7 linked regions of the Homo sapiens genome follow. The protein of the gene in region 2 interacts with the protein of the main gene of each other region in a biochemical or structural test. Each region holds a gene or a part of one and is shown on either strand. Other genes may lie near its edges. The genes, in order: PDZK1, CSPG4, PATJ, HTRA3, SIPA1L2, FRMPD1 and DLG2.

Evidence for each region.
Region 1: the proteins of CSPG4 (region 2) and PDZK1 interact in a test that uses a peptide from one of them, tested with the Homo sapiens proteins (one large-scale study listed by IntAct).
Region 3: the proteins of CSPG4 (region 2) and PATJ interact in a test that uses a peptide from one of them, tested with the Homo sapiens proteins (one large-scale study listed by IntAct).
Region 4: the proteins of CSPG4 (region 2) and HTRA3 interact in a test that uses a peptide from one of them, tested with the Homo sapiens proteins (one large-scale study listed by IntAct).
Region 5: the proteins of CSPG4 (region 2) and SIPA1L2 interact in a test that uses a peptide from one of them, tested with the Homo sapiens proteins (one large-scale study listed by IntAct).
Region 6: the proteins of CSPG4 (region 2) and FRMPD1 interact in a test that uses a peptide from one of them, tested with the Homo sapiens proteins (one large-scale study listed by IntAct).
Region 7: the proteins of CSPG4 (region 2) and DLG2 interact in a test that uses a peptide from one of them, tested with the Homo sapiens proteins (one large-scale study listed by IntAct).

The regions. Positions count from the first base shown.
Region 1 is NC_000001.11:145,683,369-145,686,868, reverse strand, and holds part of PDZK1 (Na(+)/H(+) exchange regulatory cofactor NHE-RF3), read left to right. Parts: intron 1-142; coding exon 143-392; intron 393-3,500. UniProt on the Homo sapiens protein: A scaffold protein that connects plasma membrane proteins and regulatory components, regulating their surface expression in epithelial cells apical domains.
Region 2 is NC_000015.10:75,710,049-75,714,178, reverse strand, and holds the start of CSPG4 (chondroitin sulfate proteoglycan 4 precursor), read left to right. Parts: upstream 1-1,330; 5' UTR 1,331-1,423; coding exon 1,424-1,511; intron 1,512-4,130. UniProt on the Homo sapiens protein: Proteoglycan playing a role in cell proliferation and migration which stimulates endothelial cells motility during microvascular morphogenesis. May also inhibit neurite outgrowth and growth cone collapse during axon regeneration.
Region 3 is NC_000001.11:62,116,480-62,119,979, forward strand, and holds part of PATJ (inaD-like protein), read left to right. Parts: intron 1-52; coding exon 53-200; intron 201-652; coding exon 653-739; intron 740-3,500.
Region 4 is NC_000004.12:8,286,754-8,290,253, forward strand, and holds part of HTRA3 (serine protease HTRA3 isoform 1 precursor), read left to right. Parts: coding exon 1-30; intron 31-3,500. UniProt on the Homo sapiens protein: Serine protease that cleaves beta-casein/CSN2 as well as several extracellular matrix (ECM) proteoglycans such as decorin/DCN, biglycan/BGN and fibronectin/FN1.
Region 5 is NC_000001.11:232,623,634-232,627,133, reverse strand, and holds part of SIPA1L2 (signal-induced proliferation-associated 1-like protein 2), read left to right. Parts: intron 1-3,500.
Region 6 is NC_000009.12:37,737,954-37,741,453, forward strand, and holds part of FRMPD1 (FERM and PDZ domain-containing protein 1), read left to right. Parts: intron 1-2,124; coding exon 2,125-2,931; exon of another isoform or gene 2,932-3,399; intron 3,400-3,500. UniProt on the Homo sapiens protein: Stabilizes membrane-bound GPSM1, and thereby promotes its interaction with GNAI1.
Region 7 is NC_000011.10:83,471,845-83,475,344, reverse strand, and holds part of DLG2 (disks large homolog 2), read left to right. Parts: intron 1-2,567; coding exon 2,568-2,618; intron 2,619-3,500. UniProt on the Homo sapiens protein: Required for perception of chronic pain through NMDA receptor signaling. Regulates surface expression of NMDA receptors in dorsal horn neurons of the spinal cord.

The sequences.
Region 1 (3,500 bases), on a different chromosome or scaffold from region 2:
TGAGGAACTACCTGCTTCTACTTGGGTGTCAAGGGTCAACTAGCAGCATCTCCAGGGCCAGATATTGAGCCAGATGGTCAGCATTTCCCTCTGGCAGTTGGCAGAGGGTTATTAAAGTTACCTTTTTCTTCTTCCCTCCTAGGTTGTGGATCTGGTCAGAAAGAGTGGGAATTCAGTGACTTTACTAGTTCTGGATGGGGATTCCTATGAGAAAGCAGTGAAAACACGGGTGGACTTGAAAGAGTTGGGTCAAAGTCAGAAGGAGCAAGGTTTGAGTGATAATATACTTTCCCCTGTGATGAATGGAGGTGTGCAAACTTGGACCCAGCCCCGGCTCTGCTATCTCGTGAAGGAAGGAGGCAGCTATGGCTTCTCTCTGAAAACTGTCCAAGGTGAGAATTTTTTGGGGAGCAGGGGGAGGCAGGGGCAGGGCACAGACAACAGGCTTCCAGAACAAAGATGCTACTGGTTAATGACTTTTCTTCTTTGACTGACTTTTCAGTTGCTATAGATAGCTTGCAACAGCTTGCCTCCCTCCGTCTCTCACTCCCTCCCTGCCCTTTCCCTTGCCTTGCACAGTTGTGCAATGGGGGAGGGACACTGGACAGCAGTGGGGGTGGGGGGCACTGGGTACTCCTGTCCCTGAGTGTTTGTCAGGCTGGCACTTGAGGACTCTTTGAGGTCAGGGGGCCAGAGGGTTGATGCTTCTAGCCCTCTTAGGGTGAAAATGAAGGGCAGAATAAGGAATAAAAGGCAAGAAAAATGAGATTCTTCATAATAGCTATTTTTGAGTAAGATTGGTATCTTTTTTTTATCTGAGTGCCCAGATAGTCATTCATTTATTCAACAAATTCTTGAGCACCTGCTGATGTGCCAGGCACTGTTACCTTTGCTGAGAATACCGCAAAAATTTCCACCCTCCTGTAACATTTTGATAGTACCCTCAGCTGCGGCTCAGCCCCACCTGTTCTGAGGCGCATCTTTGAGCTCTGGCTAAGAGGTACATAGTGATTTGAGAAACCCTGACCATCAGGAAGCACCAGAAGTTCTATTTCTAGAATTTCAGAGGTGCAGACTAACCTGTGTTCAGTTGACCGTGGCTCTGGGGTATTGGTTGGAACCAGAGGAGCTGTGTTAGCTGGTCAATTCCTTCTTGAACACTGCCTCTGCCTATGTTCTTTCTGGGGCTGGAGAAGCACTGGTGGTAGGTCATGATTTGGCAAGTGATACAGCAGCAGACCAGTGGTAAATTTAAAATAGTTTCTAAGGCTTATTTAACCTGTACCAAGAGATGTAAACTCACGATAAGGGGTATTTCTCAGGTCTGTCAGTTATTAAACACAGTGGTGTGTATAGTCAAAGGAAGCTTGGCACGTCTTAGAAGCCTATTATCAGTAAAGTGGTAAAAAAAAGAAAATCATAATTCAGATTCTACTCATCTGGCTCATGTGCTAATGCACATGGTGAATGGTTTAGGTTAGCTTTATGAGGAAAATGGTCTCTTCATGACAAATATATAACAAGGTAGCAGGAGAAATGCTGAGTGTTTAAGGAAGCAGAGTTTAAGTTATTGTCATTCCTTACAAGTGATTTATGTAGTCATTAGCAAGCGATCCCTTGCCTAGGTTGACATACAAGAGTCCCCCCTTATCCTGTTTGGCTTTCCATAGTTTCAGTTACCTTACCTGCAGGCAACTGTGGTCTGAAAATATTAAATGGAAAATTCCATACATAATTTTTGCATTGTGAACCATTATGAGTAGTGTAATGAAATCTTGTGCTGTCCTGCCCCGTCTTGGACATGAATCCTCTGTTTGTCTAGCATCTCCACGTGGCATGTGCTTACCTGCCTGTTAGTCTTACTACTTACTACTCAGTTACCAGGTCAACTGTCACGGTATTAAAGTACTGTGTTCAAATAATCCTTATTTTGCTTAATAATGGCCCAGCACAGAAAGAAAAATATCACATATTCTCATATGTGGGAGCTAAAAAAGGTGAATCTCATGGAGGTAGAGAGTAGAATGAGAGATACCAGCAGCTGGGAAGGGTATGTGTGTGGGGTAGGGTGGGGATGAAGAGAGCTAGGTTAATGGGTACAAACCCACAGAGAGAAGGAATAAGTTCTAATGTTTGATAGCACAGTGGGGTGACTGTAGTTAACAACAATGTATTGTACATTTCAAAATAGCTGTAAGAAGATTTGAAATATTCTCAACACAAAGAAATGATAAATGTTCAAGGATGGATGTCCTAAATATTACACCCTGATTTGTTCATTATATGCTCTTGGTATCAAAATATGACACACACCCTATAAATATGTACAAATGTTATGTATCAATAAAAAATAATAGCTCAGGCCGGGCGCAGTGGCTCACGCCTGTAATCCCAGCACTTTGGGAGGCCGAGGCGGGCAGATCATGAGGTCAGGAGATCGAGACCATCCTGGCTAACACGGTGAAACCCTGTCTCTACTAAAAATACAAAAAATTAGCCGGGTGTGGTGGTGGGCGCCTGTAGTCCCAGCTACTCAGGAGGCTGAGGCAGGAGAATGGTGTGAACCCGGGAGGCGGAGGTTGCAGTGAGCTCAGATTGCGCCACTGCACTCCAGGCTGGGCGATAAAGCAAGACTCCGTCTCAAAAAAAAAAAAAAAAAAAGCCAAAAATGCAAGGATAGTGATGCTGGCAGTTCAGATATGACAAAGAGAAGCTGTAAAGTGGCCGGGCACAGTGGCTCATATCTGTAATCCTAGCGCTTTGAGAGTGCGAGGCGAGTGGATTACCTGAGGTCAGGAGTTCGAGACAAGCCTGGCCAACATGGCGAAACCCCATCTCTACTAAAAATACAAAAATTAGCCAGGCGCGGTGGCAGGCGCCTGTAGTCCCAGCTACTCGAGAGGCTGAGGCAGGAGAATCGCTTGAACCGGGGAGGCAGAGGTTGCTGTGAGCCAAGATTGCGGCCCTGCGTTCCAGCCTAGGTGACAGAGCGAGACTCCATCTGTTAAAAAAAAAAAAAAAAAGGCTGTAAAGTGCTTCTATTAAGTGAAAAGTTCTCGATTTAATAAGGAAAGAAAAAATACTGTATGCTGAGGTTGCTAAGATTAGCTCAGTTATTGTTAATCTCTTACTGTGCCTAATTTATAAGTTAAACTCTATTGTAGGTATGTAAGCACAGGAAAAAACATATAGGGTTCGGTATACTATCTTAAAGTTTCAGGCCTCCACTGGGGGTCTTGGAATGTATCCCCCATGGTTAAGGGGGAACTGCTCTATTAATATCTTTGAAGAATTGACAGCATTTCTATAAGTAGCACCTAAATCTCACCACCTAAATGCATTCGGGTTCTTCCCTCCCTCCTGTGCCTGTCCTTGTTAGCCTACATTGGTGAGATGACTCCACAGCATACGATGGCTAATATAATAGTACAAACTGAAGAGGAGAGAATGGTAAAGATGCTTTCTGATTCTACAAATGCAAAGAAAGGGCGTATGACACA
Region 2 (4,130 bases):
AACCAAGTAAGGGAGCTGGGATTTGAACCCAGGTCTCTCTGGTTTCAAGACCAATACTCATAACCCCCACATGGACCAGGCACCATCACACCTGAGCACTGCACTTAGGGTCAAAGACCTGGCCCCACATCTCAGCAGCTATGTAGACTAGCTCCAGTCCCTTAATCTCTCTCAGCCTCAGTTTCTTCATCTGCAAAACAGGTCTCAGTTTCGTTGCAAAGTATGAAGTGCTGGGCTGTTACTGGTCAAAGGGAAGAGCTGGGAAGAGGGTGCAAGGTGGGGTTGGGCTGGAGATGGGCTGGAGCAGATAGATGGAGGGACCTGAATGGAGGAAGTAAACCAAGGCCCGGTAACATTGGGACTGGACAGAGAACACGCAGATCCTCTAGGCACCGGAAGCTAAGTAACATTGCCCTTTCTCCTCCTGTTTGGGACTAGGCTGATGTTGCTGCCTGGAAGGGAGCCAGCAGAAGGGCCCCAGCCTGAAGCTGTTAGGTAGAAGCCAAATCCAGGGCCAGATTTCCAGGAGGCAGCCTCGGGAAGTTGAAACACCCGGATTCAGGGGTCAGGAGGCCTGGGCTTCTGGCACCAAACGGCCAGGGACCTACTTTCCACCTGGAGTCTTGTAAGAGCCACTTTCAGCTTGAGCTGCACTTTCGTCCTCCATGAAATGGGGGAGGGGATGCTCCTCACCCACCTTGCAAGGTTATTTTGAGGCAAATGTCATGGCGGGACTGAGAATTCTTCTGCCCTGCGAGGAAATCCAGACATCTCTCCCTTACAGACAGGGAGACTGAGGTGAGGCCCTTCCAGGCAGAGAAGGTCACTGTTGCAGCCATGGGCAGTGCCCCACAGGACCTCGGGTGGTGCCTCTGGAGTCTGGAGAAGTTCCTAGGGGACCTCCGAGGCAAAGCAGCCCAAAAGCCGCCTGTGAGGGTGGCTGGTGTCTGTCCTTCCTCCTAAGGCTGGAGTGTGCCTGTGGAGGGGTCTCCTGAACTCCCGCAAAGGCAGAAAGGAGGGAAGTAGGGGCTGGGACAGTTCATGCCTCCTCCCTGAGGGGGTCTCCCGGGCTCGGCTCTTGGGGCCAGAGTTCAGGGTGTCTGGGCCTCTCTATGACTTTGTTCTAAGTCTTTAGGGTGGGGCTGGGGTCTGGCCCAGCTGCAAGGGCCCCCTCACCCCTGCCCCAGAGAGGAACAGCCCCGCACGGGCCCTTTAAGAAGGTTGAGGGTGGGGGCAGGTGGGGGAGTCCAAGCCTGAAACCCGAGCGGGCGCGCGGGTCTGCGCCTGCCCCGCCCCCGGAGTTAAGTGCGCGGACACCCGGAGCCGGCCCGCGCCCAGGAGCAGAGCCGCGCTCGCTCCACTCAGCTCCCAGCTCCCAGGACTCCGCTGGCTCCTCGCAAGTCCTGCCGCCCAGCCCGCCGGGATGCAGTCCGGGCCGCGGCCCCCACTTCCAGCCCCCGGCCTGGCCTTGGCTTTGACCCTGACTATGTTGGCCAGACTTGCATCCGCGGGTGAGTGAGGGGCCTGAGACCCCGACCCAGCCTGGCGGAACTAGAGGGGTTCCTCCGGGAGGGAAAAGGGACAGGAGGAGCCAGAAGTGGCCCCCAGATCGGGAGTCAAGCAGGCTGCGCTTCTCCCACCACTAGCTGGGGTCGCCAGGGGTTCAATCCTGGGGCGGACACGGGACCCCGCTATCTCAGGTTATGGGGTTTCTAGCTAGCCAAGGCTGTCCAGTTAGGGGCGGGAGCAGGCGCCCCAGGCATGGATTGCCTAGGGCGTGGCTTTGCCCGTTTGGATTGTCTGAGACACCAGTGGGGCCACCCCAATGCTGGCCGAGCTTTGTTTGCCAGGCAAGTTTGGGGTGAGTATGTTGGGGTCCAAAGGGACCCGGCGACAGTGAGAAGTGGGTCCTCCAGCTTCAGATGCCCTGGGCCAGGAATGGGGAGTGCTACAAGGTGGGAAACGAGGAATGAGCCACCCTGCCCTCCCCTGTGAGGAGCACCCCCACACCCCTCCAGCTGCCCCCCAGCTCTGCCCCTTCTTTCCTCCCCTTGCTTCCTTGCAGATCCGTCTATCTGCCACCTCCCCTCTTCATTCTCTCCTCTCCCTCCTCCTGTTGGTGACAGGCAGGACCCCCCACCCACTACCCACTCTCAGCCTCCTAGAGGGAGAGCTGGTGCCCCTCAGCGGGGCTTGTCCTACAGATAGCTCTGGACCACCCCCTGCCACACCTCCTCATCCCAGCACTGATGCCTGACCCAGCAGAGGCTGAATGGAAGTTCGCTTTCCGAGAAGTGCTGGGATATATCCCCTCTCTGTCCCGATGCCAGAAACCCCAACATGACAGCATTCTTCCTTCAGCGAAGGCAGCTCTAGTTATGCCATAAGAACTGTGGCCTTAGGGCCCATCCATCATCACTACCCACGTGTGATTCAGTGCTTCAGCTACACCTTCGAGATCATTCCCAAGAGCAACATGGAGCAAAGGCAGGGCCTGAGCCTCCTTCACAAGGGCCCAGGCCACACCCTTCTCTCCTTCAGATGGAGAAGCCAGCTCTAAAAGAGGGCATCACATGGTTCCCAGAAGGGAAGTGAGTCAAGGGAGGACCCCCGCGGGGTGAATCAGGGCTGGATCTCCAGGCTCCCTGTTCCTGCAGGGACCAGATCCCCTAAGATCTCAGGGCCTGAGGGATGGGCTGGGCCGCCAGGGAGATGGGAAGGGAGCATCCAAGGTGACCAGGGTGGTCAGCTCATTCAGGCCCCAGCCTCCAGCCAAGGAGGGATTCCAGTACCCCCACCTCCTTGGGCTTCAACTGAGAGCCATTCTCAAATACCTTCTTAGCCCTGACAGCATGCAGGCATGGTGCTAGGCTCGCAGGGGCACGGGAAATTGAGAGGCTGAACTGAGACTCATTCAGGAGGCAGAAAGGCAAATTAAATCTCAAACAGCAAAAATCTGGATGAAAAGTACAGAGGGGAGAAAAGCAGGGGCAAGCTGGGGCAGGACACAGGGTGGGCCTCAAACCAAGCCTTGGTGGATGGGAAGGGAGTCAGTCCTCCAGGCAGGGGCGCTGACTCAGAGGCACCAAGGTGGGCGTAAGCAGAGGGGTGTTGAGACAGGAAGGCCAGCAGCCTGGCTGGGAGGCGTATTTCGAGCACAGGCCAGGGAGAACCACTGGGCTGGGGCACAGAAGCCTTAAATGGCAAAATGAAGCCCACGGCCTTATGCCCTGTTGGCAAAGGAGATGCCACAAGGGTTTTAGGGCAAGAGAGCAGCATGGTGCTGTGGGGTTTTATAAAGTTACACCATCCCCTGCCTTTAGGAGGACTCGGAAATGAGGAGGGGCTGTGAGAGCTCCCGTCCAGCAACCCATCTCTGTCACCACTCCTGGTCCAGCTGCCTGCCCTGATTTCTGCAGTAGGGGCAGCCCCTGCCTGAGGAAGGCGTCCCTCCCACCCCTCCTGGATGCCCCTGGCTGCAAAGGCCCTCGTCCTCCCGTATCCGAATGAGGCGTGCTGGGAGGCTCTCCCTCTACTCATCAACATTTGAGGCATCCAGGTCAGGGGGCCTGGCAGTCAGCACCCTAGAGGCCATCTGGGCCAATCTTCCACTTGTATAGAGAGGGAAACTGAGGCCCCAGAGAGGAAGAAAAGTACTCTGAGTTCCACCAAGAACCCCAGCAGCCCAGGAAGAGCCCCCAGCCCTGCTTCGAGGGTGCTCCCAGCCTGCGTCGGGGCCTAGGCTTGGGCCACTGAGACAGTGTGGGTGACAGATGCGGTGTCCAGCTCCTTCTGAGCTGTATGGGAGGCCCCAGCAGAGAGCCAAGCATTGGGGGAGATTGGATTTGAGCTGATACTGGAAGGACAGGCAGAGAAGGAAGGAGGTGACATTCTAGTCGGGGGGTCACAGTGAGCACAGGGCAGGCAGGGGTGGTGGCTCCCACACCTCTTCCCTGGCATCACTGACTGAAAGGCAGAATGTGAGGGGTTGAAGTGGGACCCAGGTTGGGGAGTACCTGGCAGGGAGGGCTTGTGTGTTACCTGGGTGGGGACTCAGAACTGATGGGGGTATCTTAGTGAGCAGGGCCACAGGGACACCAGGTACAAGAAATTGAAGCAGGGTAGATCCT
Region 3 (3,500 bases), on a different chromosome or scaffold from region 2:
GCATGGAAATATTAGGTTGTGCCAATACTGCACTGCTGTATGGTATTAACAGAAATGGAAGCGGAGTGTTTATTTCTGACATCGTGAAAGGCGGAGCCGCAGACCTGGATGGGAGATTGATTCAGGGAGATCAGATCTTATCTGTGAATGGGGAGGACATGAGAAATGCCTCACAGGAGACAGTGGCCACCATCCTCAAGGTGAGTTGCTAGGCTGCTTTTTACCCAGCTGGCACAACTGAAGTCCAGTGGGAACTGTTCCAGTCTAGCTTGATTATAAAATGGGTTGGATTTTATACTAACTCTAGTTTTTACTAGAAATTTAATCTCTGATTATTTTAAATGAGCCAGAATAGCTTTAAAAGAAAGTTCTGTTATATTGACTAACAGAATGAAAGGGAACCTGCTTTGGGATTTCACAAGCAAGTTTTTCATACTTGTGAGAATTCTAAGTATCCATCACTGTTCTTTAAATGCATTTGATGAGATGGGCCCTCCAGGAGCCACAGAATTCATCCTCCTCTCTCTAGGGCTATGCCTGTTGCTTTCATTACCCTTTTATAATTTGTGGCTGCAGGGAGAGGCTCTGTTAAGATATTTCAGAATATAAATGCTACTACTTTTCATTTCTGTTCTTTTCTTGCCTTTCCAAGTGTGCACAGGGACTTGTGCAGCTAGAGATTGGAAGACTCCGAGCTGGTTCCTGGACCTCCGCAAGGACGACATCACAGAACAGTCAGGTTGTCGATGGCTTCTCATCAGACTGACTCACTCTTCTGCCCCCACTGGGAGAAAGTTCCCCATTTAATAAATGGTTGTTTGGAAATAATATCTAATGTACAGCATATTCACAGCACCAAGTTTAGTGAACTTTCATGTGTTTGAAATAAAAATGAAAGGTGGGATGGAAATTCATTAATCCCTAGATTTTTCTCTCCTTTATTGCTTGCAAATGTTTTCTTGGAAGCTCTTTTCTCTCTATTAGTTCTATATTGCCTATGCACGCATGTACACAGCTGTGTTTATTTAAAAAAAAAAAAAGGCAACATCTGGTGGCAATTTGACCCTCATTAGCACAACATTGTTCTATTCATTCAATTAAATATTGCTATAAAGTTAACTTGTGACTAGCCACTCACACATGCCGAGGGCAATTAATGGCATATTCCTAGGAGAACCAAGTGTGGGGGTTTTTCCTGTGGGAGGGAGGGCTTAGTGGGTGATATTTTGTGGGTTAGCAAACATCTTATATTTATTTGCAAAGCTGATGTAAGTGCCATTTTTTTTTAGCAAAGTATATTTCACTATATTTTTTTCATTGTAATGGCTGACAAAATCAAGATGGTAGACTGTATGGTTAGCCCCATGTGGTACATAATGAGACTATAGAAACTTATATGTGACCCCTAAGTCTCCTCTCTGGGTTATGGATAGGCCGCCTTAGTTTTGAGGTTAAAAGCATGACTTTTGGTCCCCTCCCTGGTTGCCTTATTTCTGAAGCCTCTCCAAGGCCTTTGTTCAGAAGGTGCTCTGATCTTACAGTTAGCACACAGTTACTTCTGGAAAGCTATTAGCTGCCTCCTGTTCCTCACTGGTGTTAAAAAATGAGTGAGGAAAATACCATTGTTCAGATAGGATTACAGACTAGCTGGCTTGTCTTAGGGAATCTTCAAAGCAGTCAAACCCAATAAACACCATATTAAGTTTGAAACACTTTTTTTTTTTTTCATTTCTGGCTTACATAATGGGCAGCAAATATCTAAGACATGGTGCTGCTGTAGGATTCCATGAGTTAATAGTTAGTGATGATATTGACCAGACTTATATCAACAAACGAAACAGTTGTCTAGCCAGGCTTCTTCCTTAATGGAAGACTCATCTTTGTTGAATGATTTCATTAAAGCCTTATTGTATACAGAAGATTAGAATGAAGCTACACAGAGGAGGTTCCATTGAATCTCACTCCAAATGGAGTTTGGGGAAAAGAAGGAAAAGGCATCTCAGACAGGGAAAATAGCATACACAAAGGCACAAAGAGGTAACAGGTGTTTGTGTGATTTAAGAAAAGTTTGGACTGATCGATAGGTAAGGTAGTGGATAGAAATGGATTTCTGTCCCTCTTGAGAGATGTATGTGAGCATCTTCTTATTTATTTATTTATTTATTTTTGAGACGGAGTCCCACTCTGTTGCCCAGGTTGGAGTGCAATGGCGCGATCTCAGCTCACTGTAATCTTCGCCTCCCGGGTTCAAGTGAGTCTCCTGCCTCAGCCTCTCGAGTAGCTGGGACTACAGGTGCCCGCCACCACATCCGGCTAATTTTTGTATTTTTAGTAGACACGGGGTTTCAAAACATCTTGGTCAGGCTGGTCTCAAACTCCTGATCTCAGGTGATCCACCCACCTCGGCCTCCCAAAGTGCCTGGATGACAGGTGTGAGCCCCCGCGCCCAGCCGCATCTTCATAATTTTTAAGTTCACACTCAAAGACAGAACTACCAAATTTAGAAGCTACATCATTAAATATCAAAAAAAAAAAAAACCTATCGTCTCCACTTACCTGGTATATGAATGTGAGTTGTCATATTTTGGAAACCTGGGACAAAGTATCAAATACTTTGCCCTAATCTTCTTACACAGAATTTTAATTTCAGAGGGTAGGAGTTTAATTCAATTTTTAAAAACAGTAAATATATCTTATCATCACCTTGTGCTTAAAATTATGGGTGAGATAGAAGAGTTTGCCCTATTTGGCTAATTAGAAGAAGGCTGGTAGCCGACTGTGAAAAGGAAATGTCTTCCCATCATGATGAGTTGAAGACTGACCCTGGTGGGCAAAAACAAGATTCCATTGCCAAACATTTTTACATCCAGACCCATTTAAAAAATCAGGATCTTGTAGGAACACAGATTTCCTTCTGAGCAGTTACAAAATAGGGAGATCAATGCCTTCTTTTGAGCGCTAAGGAGAATAAGCTCTTGACTTAATTCATAGAAAGTGAGTTCATTAAGAGAGAAATAACTTCTAGCTTTGGGGCCACCAAGTGTCTTTTTTTAAAATGACTTTCCCCCAAACCAGGAAGAAATTTCCTTACTCCACAGAGGAAAAAATACTTGCGAGATCTTTTCCTCAGCCAACTAAGGGAACACAGTCAGGCAAAGTGTACTTTTATAAACGTCTTGGGGCCGGGCGTGGTGGCTCACATCTGTAATCCCAGCACTGGGAGTTCGAGGCGGGCAGATCACTTGAGGGCAGGAATTCAAGACCAGCCTGGCCAAAGAGCCTGGTGAAACCCTGTCTCTACTAAAAATACAAAAATTAGCTGGGCATAGTGGTGGGCTCCTGTAACCCCAGCTACTCAGGAGGCTGAGGCAACAGAATCACTTGAACCTGGGAGGCGGAGGTTGCAGTGAGCTGAAATTGCACCACTGCACTACAGCCTGGGTGACAGAGGGAGACTCCTCAAAAATTACAATACAATGCAATAAAGGTCTTGGCAAACA
Region 4 (3,500 bases), on a different chromosome or scaffold from region 2:
GACATTGCCACCATCAAGATCCATCCCAAGGTGGGTGGGCGTGGGTGGAGGGGCGGAAGCACCTGGGGCTGGGCATGGTGGCCTCTTCCCAGACGCCGGAACCCAGAGGCAAGCTAGCCCCACCTTCCATCAGCCAGGGGGAGGAAACTGGGCCCAGGGAGGACTGGCAGCTGGCCCAGGGTCACGGCTTGGAAAAGACCTAGAACCCAGGTCTTTGGACTCCTTGTCCTGCGCTCCCTGAGCCGCTAGGTGCAGGGCAGAGCCAGGAAGCATGTGGCCCACAGTGGGTGGGCTGTGGTCCCATATCACACCCCACGGAGGCTCTTCACTGTCTTACCTGGGCCCACTACTGGGGATGCACCTGCCCCATGGGATGGCATCTGGGTTTGGGCGTGGAGGCCAGGGGGCTGCCGTGGGGAACACTTGGGACAGGGACCCCATCCCTCCACCTTCACGTCTGTACCTCCCACCAGCTGACCCAGAAGAGGCCTGCACTGAGGCCCCCAGAATCCTCTTCTTCCTCCACCGGCTGTTTCTGGAAGGCCTGCTCTCAGCCAGGCGCTGACTGCACTCCTCTAATTCTCACCACAGGCCTGGGAGGAAAGGGCCTGTATGAGTCTGTTTTCACACTGCTATAAAGAACTACCTGAGACTGGGTCATTTATGAAGAAAAGAGGGTTCGTTGACTCAGAGTTCTGTAGGCTGTACAGGAAGCATGACCAGGAGGCCTCAGGAGACATACAATCATGACGGAAGGCAAAGGGGAAGCAGGGACATCTTCTCATGGCAGAGCCGGAGAGAGAGAGAGTGAAGTGGGACATGCCACACATTTTAAAACCATCAGATCTCGTGAGAACTCACCACCATGAGAACAGCATGGGGGAAGTCTGCCCCCATGATCCCATCACCTCCCACCAGGCCCGTCCCCCAACACATGGGGATTACAATTTGACATGAGATTTGGGTGGCGACACAGAGCCAAACCATATCAGGGACCTCATTATCTTGGGATTTCAGACGGGGCAACTGAGGCTTGGAAGTTAGGTAACTCGTCCAAGATCACAGCGCACTGGAGCAGGGCTGGCCCGCTCAGCTAGGACCCCGGCCTCCCTCCAGCTTGTTCTTGTCTTGCCCAATGCCATGCTTATGTGACCCTGGGGACCACAGTTGAGTTACTTGCAGCTCCCCATGCCATGAGGTCACTGAGTCCCATGTCTCACACCAGCGTTGGACCCGGAGCTTCCCTTGGACTGGGAAGTTCACCTTGGCTGGTTTGAATTTGGCTTCCTCTCTTTCTGAATGAACGTTTACAGCATTTGTGATGAAATCTTTTGCAAGGGGGTTTCCTCTTGCCCCATCAAGGGAGAGGAGATTTAATGGTTCCAAGGAGTTCCCCTAATGGGGACCCTTCCCTGCTTTTCAGACTTTTCACGGTCGCGATTGAGTCTGGGGGCATCACCTCCATTTTAAAGTTAAGGAAACCCACTGAGGGGTGTGCTCACGGACAGGAGTTGGCAAATTTTCTTTTCTTTTTTTTGAAATGGGGTTTTGCCCTTGTTGCCCAGGCTGGAGTGCAATGGCGTCATCTCGGCTCACCACAACCTCCGCCTCCCGGGTTCAAGCAATTCTCCTGCCTCAGCCCCCCGAGTAGCTAGGATCACAGGCATGTGCCACCACACTGGCCAATTTTTTTGTATTTTTAGTAGAGACGGGGTTTCTCCATGTTGGTCAGGCTGGTCTTGAACTCCCAACCACAGGTGATCCACCTGCCTTGGCCTCCCAAAGTACCGGGATTACAGGCGTGAACCACCGTGCCTAGCCTTTTTTTTTTTTTTTTGAGACGGGTTCTTGCTCTGTCACCCAGGCTGGAGTGCAGTAGCAGGATCTCGGCTCACTGCAACCTCCACCTCCCAGGTTCAAGTAATTCCCCTGTCTCAGTCTCCCAAGTAGCTGTGACTATAGGTGCATGCCACCACCCTCAGCTAATTTTTGTATTTTTAGTAGAGATGGGTTTCACCATGTTGGCCAGGCTGGTCTTGAACTCCTGACCTCAGGTGATCCCCTGCCTTGGCCTCCCAAAGTGCTAGGATTACAGGAATGAGCCACTGCACCCCACCCCCAAATTTTCCTTCCTTCCTTCCGTCCGTCCTTCCTTCCTTCCTTCCTTCCTTCCTTCCTTCCTCCCTTCCTCCCCCTCTCTCTCTCTTTTTTTTTTTTTCAGGGTCTCGCTCTGTTGCCCAGGCTGGAGTGCAGTGGCACAATCACAGCTCACTGCAGCGTCAAACTCCTGGGCTTAAGGGATCTTCCCACCTTGGCCTTCCATATAGCTAGGACTACAGGCATGCACCACCATACCTGGCTAATTTTTAAATTTTTGGTAGAGATAGGGTCTCGCTGTATTGCCCAGGCTGGTCTAGAACTCGTGGGCTCAAGCAATCCTCCTGCCTCGGCCTCCCAAAGTGTTGGGATTACAGGTGTGAGCCATGGTGCCCAGCCAACAAATTTTCCATGAAGCCAAATGGTAAATATTTTATCTTTGCAAGCCCTGTGGTCTCTGTCACAACCACGCATCTCTGCTGTGGCAAAAATGCAGCCTTAGGCTGCACAGGTGGGTGTGGCTGCGTTCCAGTGAAGCTTGATTCACAAAACAGGCAATGGACAGCGTTTGGGCCTTGGGCCAGTTTGCAACCCCCGCTCGAGGACCCCTGTGGGAAGAGGAGAGCGAGACTAGGGGCAGGTCTGTCTCCCCTTCCGGCGGCTGTGGCAGAATGCTGGCAGGACTGGTGGGGTGGTATCCAGGTGGGCCTGAGCAGGACGCCCCACCAGCCACCTGTGGCAAATGGGTGCCAGCAGAGCTAGTGTGATTCATGTCCTGCAGGCCCTGGTCAGCACCCATGGCCATGAGCTGAGGTGGGAAACGCCCTCCTAGCCCCTAGGCATTAAATCGAGCCATGGGAAAGGCTCCTGACCCTCACCTGTGCCCCCTCCTTGGGTGCAGGGAGGATGGCTGACCCTCCCCAGCTCACGGCCTCACCTGTGCACCCTCCTTGGGTGCAGGGAGGATGACTGACCCTCCCCAGCTCATGGCCTCACCTGTGCGCCCTCCTTGGGTGCAGGGAGGATGGGCTGACCCTCCCCAGCTCATGGCCTCACCTGTGCGCCCTCCTTGGGTGCAGGGAGGATGGGCTGACCCTCCCCAGTTCACGGCCTCACCTGTGCACCCTCCTTGGGTGCAGGGAGGACGGGCTGACCCTCCTCAGTTCACGGCCTCCCAGAGATTTCAGACGTTATTTCTGCCTCTTCGGCCGGTCAGCAATGGAAAATGTCATCTCTCCGGGCCCTCACCTTCCAATGTGCAGGCCTGGTTCCGCCACCTGGCATTCTCTCTGCCATTGACTGAAGCTTCTTGAGCACAGAGAATAGAGGAGCGGCCTGAGTCTTTCCCACACCAGCGCCCGCCCACCAAGGGCTCCCGTAATCCTGTGCGGGGCTCCACGTCG
Region 5 (3,500 bases), on a different chromosome or scaffold from region 2:
TTACAAATCCTTTTAAAGACACACTGAATTTGAAGAAAATTTAGACTAGGGTATTGTTAATTGAAAAGCTGCTTTTTTTTTTCTTTCTGTTTTGAACTTCAATGAAATACAAAGTACAGTCCTAGAGAATAGTGAACCATGTTCTAGGTTTTCTACTTCTGTTAATGTGCCTAATTCATTTGCAGAGTGAGAGTAGAAAAAGCTTTAGGCACAGACAGGAACCTTGAGCTTCCTGCCTCTACCACCTGTCACAAATGAATTTGGATGAAACTATTTTCATGATCCCTTTCAGCACCAAAATTTGGGGTTTCTTTAAGGTTTAAGACGAACGCATTAGAGTAATGAAAATGCCTGTCTGACTGGGATGTTTATATTTTTCATGATTATGTCATTTCTTTGCCTTGGCCTATAGTAAGTTTGTATGTGAATGCTTTGCATGAGGGTCATAGCTACTTGGTTTACCTTGAAATCAATGATTCAGAAATTGCTTTTTGTGTTCCAGTTGCATGTAGCTGTGACTCCTTTTAAAAGTGTGGTAACAATGTGGTAGGAATTTAAAAGCTTCCCAACTTTAGACATAGATTATTTTGATCCTTTCTGAACTGGATTCATAAACTTTGGTTCCAAAGAACAGCAGCTGTAGAAGGGAGCCAGATCTTGACTCACTGTTGAGGTTCTGCTTCTTGAGAGATTTCATATTTAGTGCAACCCAATTCCTTGGTTCGTTCTTCTCCCCCAGTACTAGATAGCCAAGTTGGGTGGTAGGAAGGAAGAAAATATGCAGCAAGTCGAGTCTAGTTGTCATGCTCCTTTGGGCCAGAAAGGACCTTAAAGATTGTCTCGTCATGTTGTTCCTATACCTTTTGTTTTCGTCTACCTGTAAAATGAAAAAAAAAAAAAAAAGCAAATATTAGGGATTGTCAGATATGTCAGCATTTAATGTTGCTACATAAGTGTGTTTAAAATTGACAACAGCAGTTACTACCTATTGTCAATGCATTTCGTCAAAATCCTTTTGATGTACCAAAAAAGAGAAAAGGTGGGGAAAGGGGGAAGAATATGTATGCTGTCAGACTTAAAGGAGAGTTCTTCCTATCCAGAGAGGAGCTGTGTTAAAATTACCCCACTCGTGGATTTATATCTATCCCCACACAGACACTTTTTTCTTTTGCATGGGTCAATGAAAAATTCACTAAGGACCGGGGTTTAGAAATCACTGAGTAGCTCAACTAACCCTTCTTTGATATTTGGATCCTTTTATATAATCTCTGTAAGTGGTCTTCCGGTAATACCTGAACATTGCAAGTAACGGGTGGTGATTTCCACCTTTTAATGGTTTTGAGTACTAGAAAGTTTTTTGGCCTATAGAATTGAAATCTGATTCTGCTTGTTTATTCAAATTCTACTGCCTTGGTGGCCTACAGAACAAATCCTTCAGTCTCTGTCAGAGTTGGGCTCTTGGTGTAACGTGACCCGTGAACATGACCTGTGTAGAGTACAGCAGGAGTGTCTTGTCATAGGTTGCATGTTGCTTGCACTGATGTAGTCCAAGTTTGCATTTACTTTTCTGGTGGCCAGACTCAACGAGTTTCCTTTTCGCTAAAACCTGCCGAGCCGTTAATCACATGCTGCCATTGAACCTCGTCTTTCCATCTTGCGCTGATGTCATTGCAAAACCTAACATTTATTGCGCTGTGGTTTTGCTTTATTTTAGCTGATTCTTTCCATCATGCTTTTTAGAATTTGATTATATTATTTGGCACCTTTACCTGTCCTCCCAAAGAAATGCTGTCTGTACATTATTAGATCAGACTCTTTTATATCTTTACTTAAGCCGGTGATGAAATTGTTAAACTGGCTGAACAACACGAAGTGTGTCTCTGGAAGCTTCCCTCGAGGCTTACAAGGAGTCACACTCTCGGTTATAGTTAACTACTAATGCTCTTCATATCTTATAACTAGCCCATATAGCTCCACCTTTCCACATGGATATCCTGAAAGAGTGTGTCAAACCTCCTTTGCTGGTTCTACTGACCAAGTTATGCTGAGTAATAATGAGTTCATTTTCAGTGTGTCCCTAGTAACGAGCACTCTCTTCTGCATATGATTAAGAAAATGTGTTAAATGACTGACTGGATTGAGACACTAGGGTCACACTGTGATCTGTGACCTCCGGAGGCCTTAGGAACTGCAGTGCTTCTAGGAAAAATCAGAATATTGTTGGACTTTCTTCAGCTTATTTTTTGGTTTGGTATTCTCTTGTGTTGAATTGCTTTCAGATAGTGGGGAAGAACACCACAGTCTCTTCCGGTTTTGTTTTAATTGGTTGATATACTTCTCTTCCTATTTTACTAATAAACATTTAGCCAAAAGGGGTGTCTTGAACTCTGCCCATTAGATTACTCCATATTTTTCACTTCTACATATTTGCTTAATCTTCTGAGAAATATCCCCATTTAGTTGAGTTCCTCAAGAAATCAGAACAGTCCGAAGTAAGCTATCTGGTAGTTTATTCAAACTCTTAAGTAAAAATATCTAGGTAAAGAGCCAGTGTTAAAAATTGTTATTGTGGAAAGTAAGAACTCCTGGGTGAATAAAAGATTATGTCTGCTGAGATGAACTATTGTGTGGAGTTTTAAAAGAAAGTTCTGGTTAATGCTTAAGACATAGTGTCCTGTGAAGTCAGCATAACTACTTTCACTGTCTTCTGGAGGTGGTTTTGATAACACATTTGGTTCCTTGTTGAACAGTGGGTATTCACATTGTTCAGGAATAGCTTTGGGATACTGTCCTCTCCGTATTGAAGTTTCTAATAAGTAATTTTAGGAATTATAGTTTTGATTCTTTGTACAGGGCAAATGCTACCTGTTTCAGGTGTTTAAATGGCCTAATGCAAGAAACAGTGGTTTCTTTTTAGCAGGTTCTCAAGGTTCTCAAACTTTTTTCAACGTGCATCCCATCTATACACAATTGTCTAAGTGTTCATGTATGTATGCGTATACATGTATACATATCTGCATGCACGTTTGTGTGTGTGTATATGTATAATATATCTGTATGTATAAACATATACTTTACTGTGCTAAGATATTATGGACATAAAACAAATGTACATTTTAAGAAGATTAATATTAAAAATAAATAGATGTAGAAGTATTTTCTCTGCATCTCAAGGGCATTTGTATCTTTGAAATGTGTGGCCCCTGTGTAGAGACCACTGTTGTACTATCACTGGTTAGAGTTTATAGCAGTTGAGAAATGGAATTTCTAGGGAGCCTGTAGGGTCTTGTGAGGCAAGCGGAAGACAAACTCCACTCTTGATGGGCCTTATATTTACTGTGTATTTATTCTTTTTCCCGAAGACATTTCTGACTTTGGCCTGTTTTCTTCCAGAATTGCTTGTGGGTCTTGGTTTGGGGTTTCATTTATTGAGGGGTAGGAGGTTAATGTAATGGCGATGCTATTCTCCTTAGAAAGTTTCTAATTGAACTCAGCTGTTT
Region 6 (3,500 bases), on a different chromosome or scaffold from region 2:
TAAAAGAACTTCTCTGCAAGGCAGGTAAGACAGTTTCCTAGGCCAGCTCCCAGTTTCTGCCAGGCTTTTGCCTCAGCACCATTGATGCAGCATGAACCTAGGGCTGTGCTGATAAATGCTTAACAACTCCCTGCAGAGGGACAAAAACAGTTTGAAGGAATTGCCCAATTCCATGGTGTCAACATTCTCACGATGGGTAATTTCAGGCTACCACGATATGATGATACCATGATGAATGTGGAGATGGGAAGAGGTGATCAATAGCACACCACTGTAGAGTGTTTCCTCTATATGGATAAAGTAGAAATCAGCTCAAGAGAATAGGTACTAATACAATAAGTAAAACAGTTAGAAAGTGATGAGTTTGGAGTATCTGTTACCTTTGTTTTTATTTTTATTTTTTTTAGAGGCAGTCTCTCTCTGTCACCCAGGCTGGAGTGCAGTGGTGCAATCTTGGCTCACTGCAGCCTCCACCTCCTGGGTTCAAGTGATTCTCCTGCCTCAGCCTCCCAAGTAGCTGAGATTACAGACACCTGCCACCACGCCCGGCTAATTTTTGTACATTAGTAGAGATGGGGTTTCGCCATGTTGGTCAGACTGGTCTCGAGCCCCTGACCTCAAATGATCTGCCCACCTTAGCCTCCCAAAGTGCTGAGATTACAGGCATGAGCCACGGCGCCCAGCCTGTTACCTTTGTTGTTACACAATGTATTTATGAACGAGGGGTGACTCCTCAGAGTCTGCTCAGGGAGACAACGCAGAGTGGCAACAGGGCTGTTGTGGAGGGGTTGTGGGGGGGACTGCTGCTGCCTGTCAGAGAAAGTTCTCTAGAGGAAGAGGTATTGGAAATAGATCTTGAAGAACATGCTGGAGTTAACCAGGCACGGAAAAGGAAGACAGATCATTCAAGGCCGAGGGGGCCTGGAGGAATGACCCGAGGAAAAGGCCATGACCTGAAAGGAGCTCTCCCTATGGGTGGCTGGAACGTGGCAGGGAAGGCTGCCATGGGGGACTGGGTGCCTGAGGAGGGGCTGGACCATATTGCAAGAGGGGAAAAGGGAGATGGTGAAAAGAGATAGGAGCCCCACCACGAGAAGGGCAGCTAGACTACAGAGGAGACCTCAGCGCCATTCTGTGAGGGAGACACTAGACTGAAGGGGAGGTGTCAAGACCATCCTGTCGTGGGTACTAGACTGCAGAGGAGGGTTCAGGGCCATCCTGGGAGAGGGGGAAGAGCCTGCAGAGGAGGCCTTAGGGCCATCCTTTGAGGCAAGGGAGGACTAGACTGTGCATGAGGCGCCATGGCCATCCTGTGAGAAGGGCAACAAGGCCATACTGTGAGAGTCTGTAACTGTTGTGGGGGAGGCCAGGCTCTTCCCCGTAAGCAGGGCAGCCATCAGAGGGTTTAAGCAGGGTGTGATGAGGTCAGAGAGAAGTTTGAGAAAGATCACTCTGGAGGCTTACAGGAATAAAGAGATTGCAACCTGGCTCAGTGCTCCCCAGCCTCCTACCATTAATCCTTCCTGAGAACCTGCCGCTGGATGAGTTTTCACTGTCCTACAAAGCCCATAGCACCCATGGATCCAGAAGGCCAGGCTTTAGAATGGTGCCAGCCTAGCAGCCTCGTACTCGTCATAAAATTGCTAAAAATACAGATTCTCAGGCCCCACTTCTAGCGATCTGACTCAGTACATCAGGGGTAGGGCCAAGGATCTGTTGTATTTTTAAAATATGATTCCCCATCTGACTTTGACGCCCAGGCAGGATAGAACTGAGGTCTGGGGAGGGGCTTAGCAAACCTGGGCAGTGCTGCCCACACAAAGAGGAATCAAAGTAAATACCACATTTCCATGAACAGACAGTTCTCCTTGGAGGTGGGGATGGAGTTAATCCAGCCTCCTTTAGCTCAGAGAGATGTGGGACAGGCGGTCTGATAGCATGGGGAGAACATGGAAGCTGGAGTCCCTCGGATCCCGTGTTCGTCAGTATAGGACGGTCTTAGGCCAGCCACCCTCTGGCCCTCAGTTTTCTCGTCTGGCAGGGTTGGGTGGGGGTCAGGGGGCTAGAAGGACACATAGGTAGGAGAATTCTGTTGTGTAACTGTTGCTGTACCCTGTGTTGCAGGCTATGAATCCAGGGCCTGCAGTGACTCAGAGGAGTCCTCTGAGGTGGACTGCGTACTCGAACCTCTCTCTGACAGGCGCCTGGTGAAACTGGCACCCTGCAGATCACTCATAAAGGAGGAGCAGCCTCCTGGGAACAGCCCCACACCTGAGGTGGCTAGGAGGGGCCCCAGCACCTGCGGGGCCAGCAGCACGACAGACAGTGCCGAGTCCGAGGCGTCCGACTCAGCCAACACTGAGAGCCGCGGCTACAGGACCAGTGGCTCGAGTGAGTCCATGGACGCTCTGGAAGAGGATGACTTAGACACCTGCTCCTCCAGCAGGTCCACCTTCTTCCACTTTGGCTCGCCAGGCCTCGCAGAGAGCATTGACTCTGACAGCCAGGAGGAGAGAAGCGGGATTGAAACCAGTGGCTTCCTCTGTCTCCTGGACCTGGCCCAGAGAGCCAACCCCCAGTGCCAGAAGACAGAGTTTTCCGAGAGTGCTGCTTTGGAGACATTTGGCTGGGCACCAGAACTGAGCACAGTCAGGCTGGACCCCAGGCTGTATGAAGGCAGCCACGCTGACTACTACAGCCTGTGTTCCAGTGTCTCCCCGGCCAGCTACCTGAGTGACAGTTCCGAGAGTACAGCTTCCCGGCAAGGGGGAGCCCCGCCAGCCTGGGGTCAGCAGGGCTGGACTGAGGCCCAGCCCAGTTCCATGCTGGAACCCCTGGCCCTGCACCCACCACTGGCCTTTGAGGATGGCAGCTCAGATGAGGAATACTATGACGCGGCTGATAAGCTCACTCCCCCAGGCCCCCCGTCAGGTGAGCCGTCCCTTGCAGGTCTGCAGACACGGCAGGCAGCTCCTGAGTGCCTCCCGGGGATCAAGGCCTGGGGCCAAGCTTGAGAGGAAGGCACATGAGTGAAACAGGGTCCCTGTACACTTCTGAGGAGGTAGATACAGATTCCATGGACCAAATTTTAGGCATCGTGGCAGGCCTGCAAGGGAGGTTCAGACAACTGTGGCAAGCAGATGGGAGGGATTCATCCAACAGTGGGAATCAGGGAAGGCTTCCCAGAAGAGGGGGCAAATGGGCTGGGCCCTGTGGGAGGGACAGAATTTACAAAAAAGGAAAGGGCTTGACAGGAGTGCCCGGCAGAGCGAAGTGGCTATGTCATCACTGATCCTGAGGCTGCATTAAAGGAGGCCTTGAAGCAAGAAGAACCAGACAGACAGGCCGTCTGTGGCCCTGCAAGGCCTTCTGGGGTCCAAGGGACCCTGACATCAGAAGGTAGGGGATCTGGTGGCTGTGTTTCTATCAGGTTCCTCATACATTCCTCCACCGAGAGTGTGGAGGGTCTTTCCAAGCAGAACTGAGATCCTGGCAGGACA
Region 7 (3,500 bases), on a different chromosome or scaffold from region 2:
AAGCCCCTCAAGGCCCGCAAAGTGCCACAAAGACATGAATTTTCTCTCCTTCATCACAGTGGCTTTTTCTCTTTCCCTTTGTCTCTTCCTCATTACCCATAGGGCTTTTCATTCTTGGACATGGAAGTAAAAATTAGTTTAAGATGCTGAATTCACAGCAATTATGTCATGCCCACCTCCACGGGTTTCCCCACAGGCTTCCTGGGTATTACACAGTACCTGATTGCCACAAGGTCTTGAGAATTGGGGTGGCCCGGACATAAGGGATGCTGCCATTGCTGTCTACCAACACTACTGCTCTGAACCAGAACCAGAACCAGTGCCTTTCATAGAAAAGTAAACCAAGAAGTGATGGATAGACAGAGATAGAGAACTCTTGAACAAAATTAATCAAAGCTATGCTTTGCCCTAGTTGTCTGAATCGCAATCATACACACTGACATCAAATATCTTATTAAAGATTTGCCTTTAGAACGTTCCATCAGAATGATTTGCAAAGCCATTGGGAAGAGATTTTTATGGGAACTTGATGTGCTCTATTTATTTAGAGAAAACGATGCTTTCCAAAGTTAAATGACCATATTGACAGAAACACAAAATAGAACCTACCGTTGGCCTCATCACTCATCCTGTTTCCCATGACTGAAATCAGAATGCAAATTTGTTGACATCTTTCTTTATGTTAAGCACTCAATGGGGCACTGGAGACATGGTGATGAATAAAACTCAGTTCTCGCCTTTATGAAACTCCCAGCCTAATAAGGAGGTCCAAGAGTTACCTGACATTTAAAGCTTTTGTTATCCCATGGTCAGAATTCTTCCCTTGCACATTAATTGTTGAAGATTTCCCCTGTAAAGTTATAGTCTAAAATTGCAATGTTAGTCTACGATGCTTCTATCATTAAAACTATACTTTCTCCCCAAGAATTTTTACACTTCTTTAATTGACCCACAGCATTTTCCTGATGAAGTAATACTAAACTAAAACCTTGAATGCGTATACCCTCTACATCGCTCAGGCTTTAGATAACTGGGGGTTAGTAATCAATCACCTTCATGTTTTTTGGCCTAGGCTCTGTACATTTCAGTAGTTTATTCAAAGGGAATCATTCTTTTCCTGAGTACAAGAAATAGTGAATCTGACTCCTCACTGACCAAACCCCTGACCAATGTGGCAGAGTCCCCTGAACACTTCTGGGGTGGCCATGGGTACATACCACTTAGGAGGAGCATCAAGGTCCACTCTCTGTACCCTTAAGAAGTAGCTTGGCATGGTGGCGCCATTCTGAGCCCAGGCCCTCCTTGGGACTGAGATAAGATATGACTTCAGCCTGAGGCCATTTCTCACACTTGAAAAAGTAAGACACTCCTATCCCCATCCCATTCCAGCTACCCAGCCTCCAAGGAAGTCATCCAACTTCGCAGCTATACCCACATATTGCTCAATTTCCCCAAATCAGTCTCATTATCAAAACAGTCGATCATATTAACTCTTCTTATGAAATTACCTCTCTTTCTGTGGTGCTGTGGCTGTTGAAGGAGGAAAACCTGGCATTGATAGACTATGAATGTGCTTCAGGGGTGGGTGGTGAGGATATACAGCAAAGGTGAATTGCCCTTTGGTTTCAGAAGTTACCTCATATTCCACTTCTGCTCCACTATTTCTTCTAGTAGACAGAAAGTTCTTTTCAACAGCCCTAACCTATTGCTGTTCCAAAGGTTAGTCAATGCAAAAAAAAATGCAGACACTTCCGGGTTTGCAGGTGAAATTGAGCTAATCCTCTGACCAATTAATTCATCAATTATATAAAATAGATGATTGAAAAAATAAATGGCAAAAACCAATTTACTTTCTATGGTTATTTGTTGACTTGAGGTCCACCCTGAGTCAGAAGGCTTGTAGCAGATGACATTGGAGGGGCTGACATTTTACTACTGTGTCTTCCTTAGTTCTCTATCTGAAGTTTCAACGCACAGTTTAGCAGCAATTATAACCAATGATGTAGGACACACCTCAATTTTTGATCTTCATTAATTGACCCACAGCATTTTCCTGACGAATTAATATTAGAGTAAAACCCTGAGTGTCCTGATGAAGTTTTTATATCATAAATGAAATAAGCATATACTTGCTTTTGAACAGTGTGCTTCTTGGGGAAATAAAATAGAAGATGAAATAAAAGGTACAGCAATTCTGATTATGTAGCAGCCATCTATTGAATTGGACCCTTTCCTTGAACTAAATGGCTTCCTTTTAAGTAGTAATGCTTGGTGTAGAGGCCATGGCATTCCATTCTCAATGCCAGACAGAAAGAAGTCTCACAGGTCATTGCCCTGCAGCAAATAGCTAGCAACCAGTTATTACTTAGAGTTATGACTGTGAAAATCTGATACTAAAATGGTGCTAAAGAGTTTTATGAGGATGAAGTTATTTTTGAATGGTTCAAGGAGAAAGAGCAAGGAGAATTAACTCTGAGCTGTGTCTGTTTCCTGTGTTTCAGAGCAGGGCTTGTCTCTGTAATATATGACTGTTAGTTCACTGTGGTTTTCTTTCCTTCTCTTCTCAGGAGGACAAGAAGACCTCATTCTTTCCTATGAGCCTGTTACAAGGCAGGAAAGTAAGTTTCCCAGCACGCTTTCATTCCTAATTTCTGGGCCATAAGAGGTGACATCATTGAAGGAGGGAAAGAGTGAAGGACTAAGGAGAATAAACTCGGCTTAATGCTCTGTTGTCTTGAGACCGTACCTTACTCTTACGCTGTCTCTCACTTTCTCTCTCTTTGACCCTATCACCAAACAGACAACTTCCTGCTGAGTATGGGCACTAATAGCACCTAAGAGAAGGATGCAGCCCTCCAGATGAGTGGTCCTCAATGGGAAGGAACACATTCAAATTACCTAAAGAGCACTAGCTACGAGACTGGTGAATAAATTCTCCTGAGAGACTGATGTCAGCTCAGTATTGAGAATGACTTTCTAGCAGATCTGCCTAAGATGTAGGCTATCTGTAAGCTGCTGCTTTTTCCTGGAGGCATTTATACAGAGGCTAATTGCTACTGACAAGGATACTGCAGAGAGAATTCAAGCATCAGATGGGGACTTGTACCCAATGAACTCTCAGGTTCCTTCTAATCCCAGATACAAGGAAATCTAGAAACTGTAGCAAAGTATAGAGAGTATTTTGATCTGGGGAAAAGAAATCATGAAAACATAAGATGTTATTACTACTAACAATTACTTTTTATAGTCATATCTAAACAATAGCCAAACAGCTGGTTTGGATTCTTTTTTCTCCCACTCAGTTGACTAAATTCAGTTGTTTTGACATTATGTAGGCAGAGCCAGAGAGTAAGCAAAACTCCTCCAAATGTTTCTTTTCATCAACAGATACTGCAATTGCCTTTCCCTGCTAGTAGATTCCAGAAAGTAGGCACTGCCAATCTCCTGAGTGTTAAACATCAATTTCCCTATGCAAGGCTGTATGAGTAATTTATCCAGTG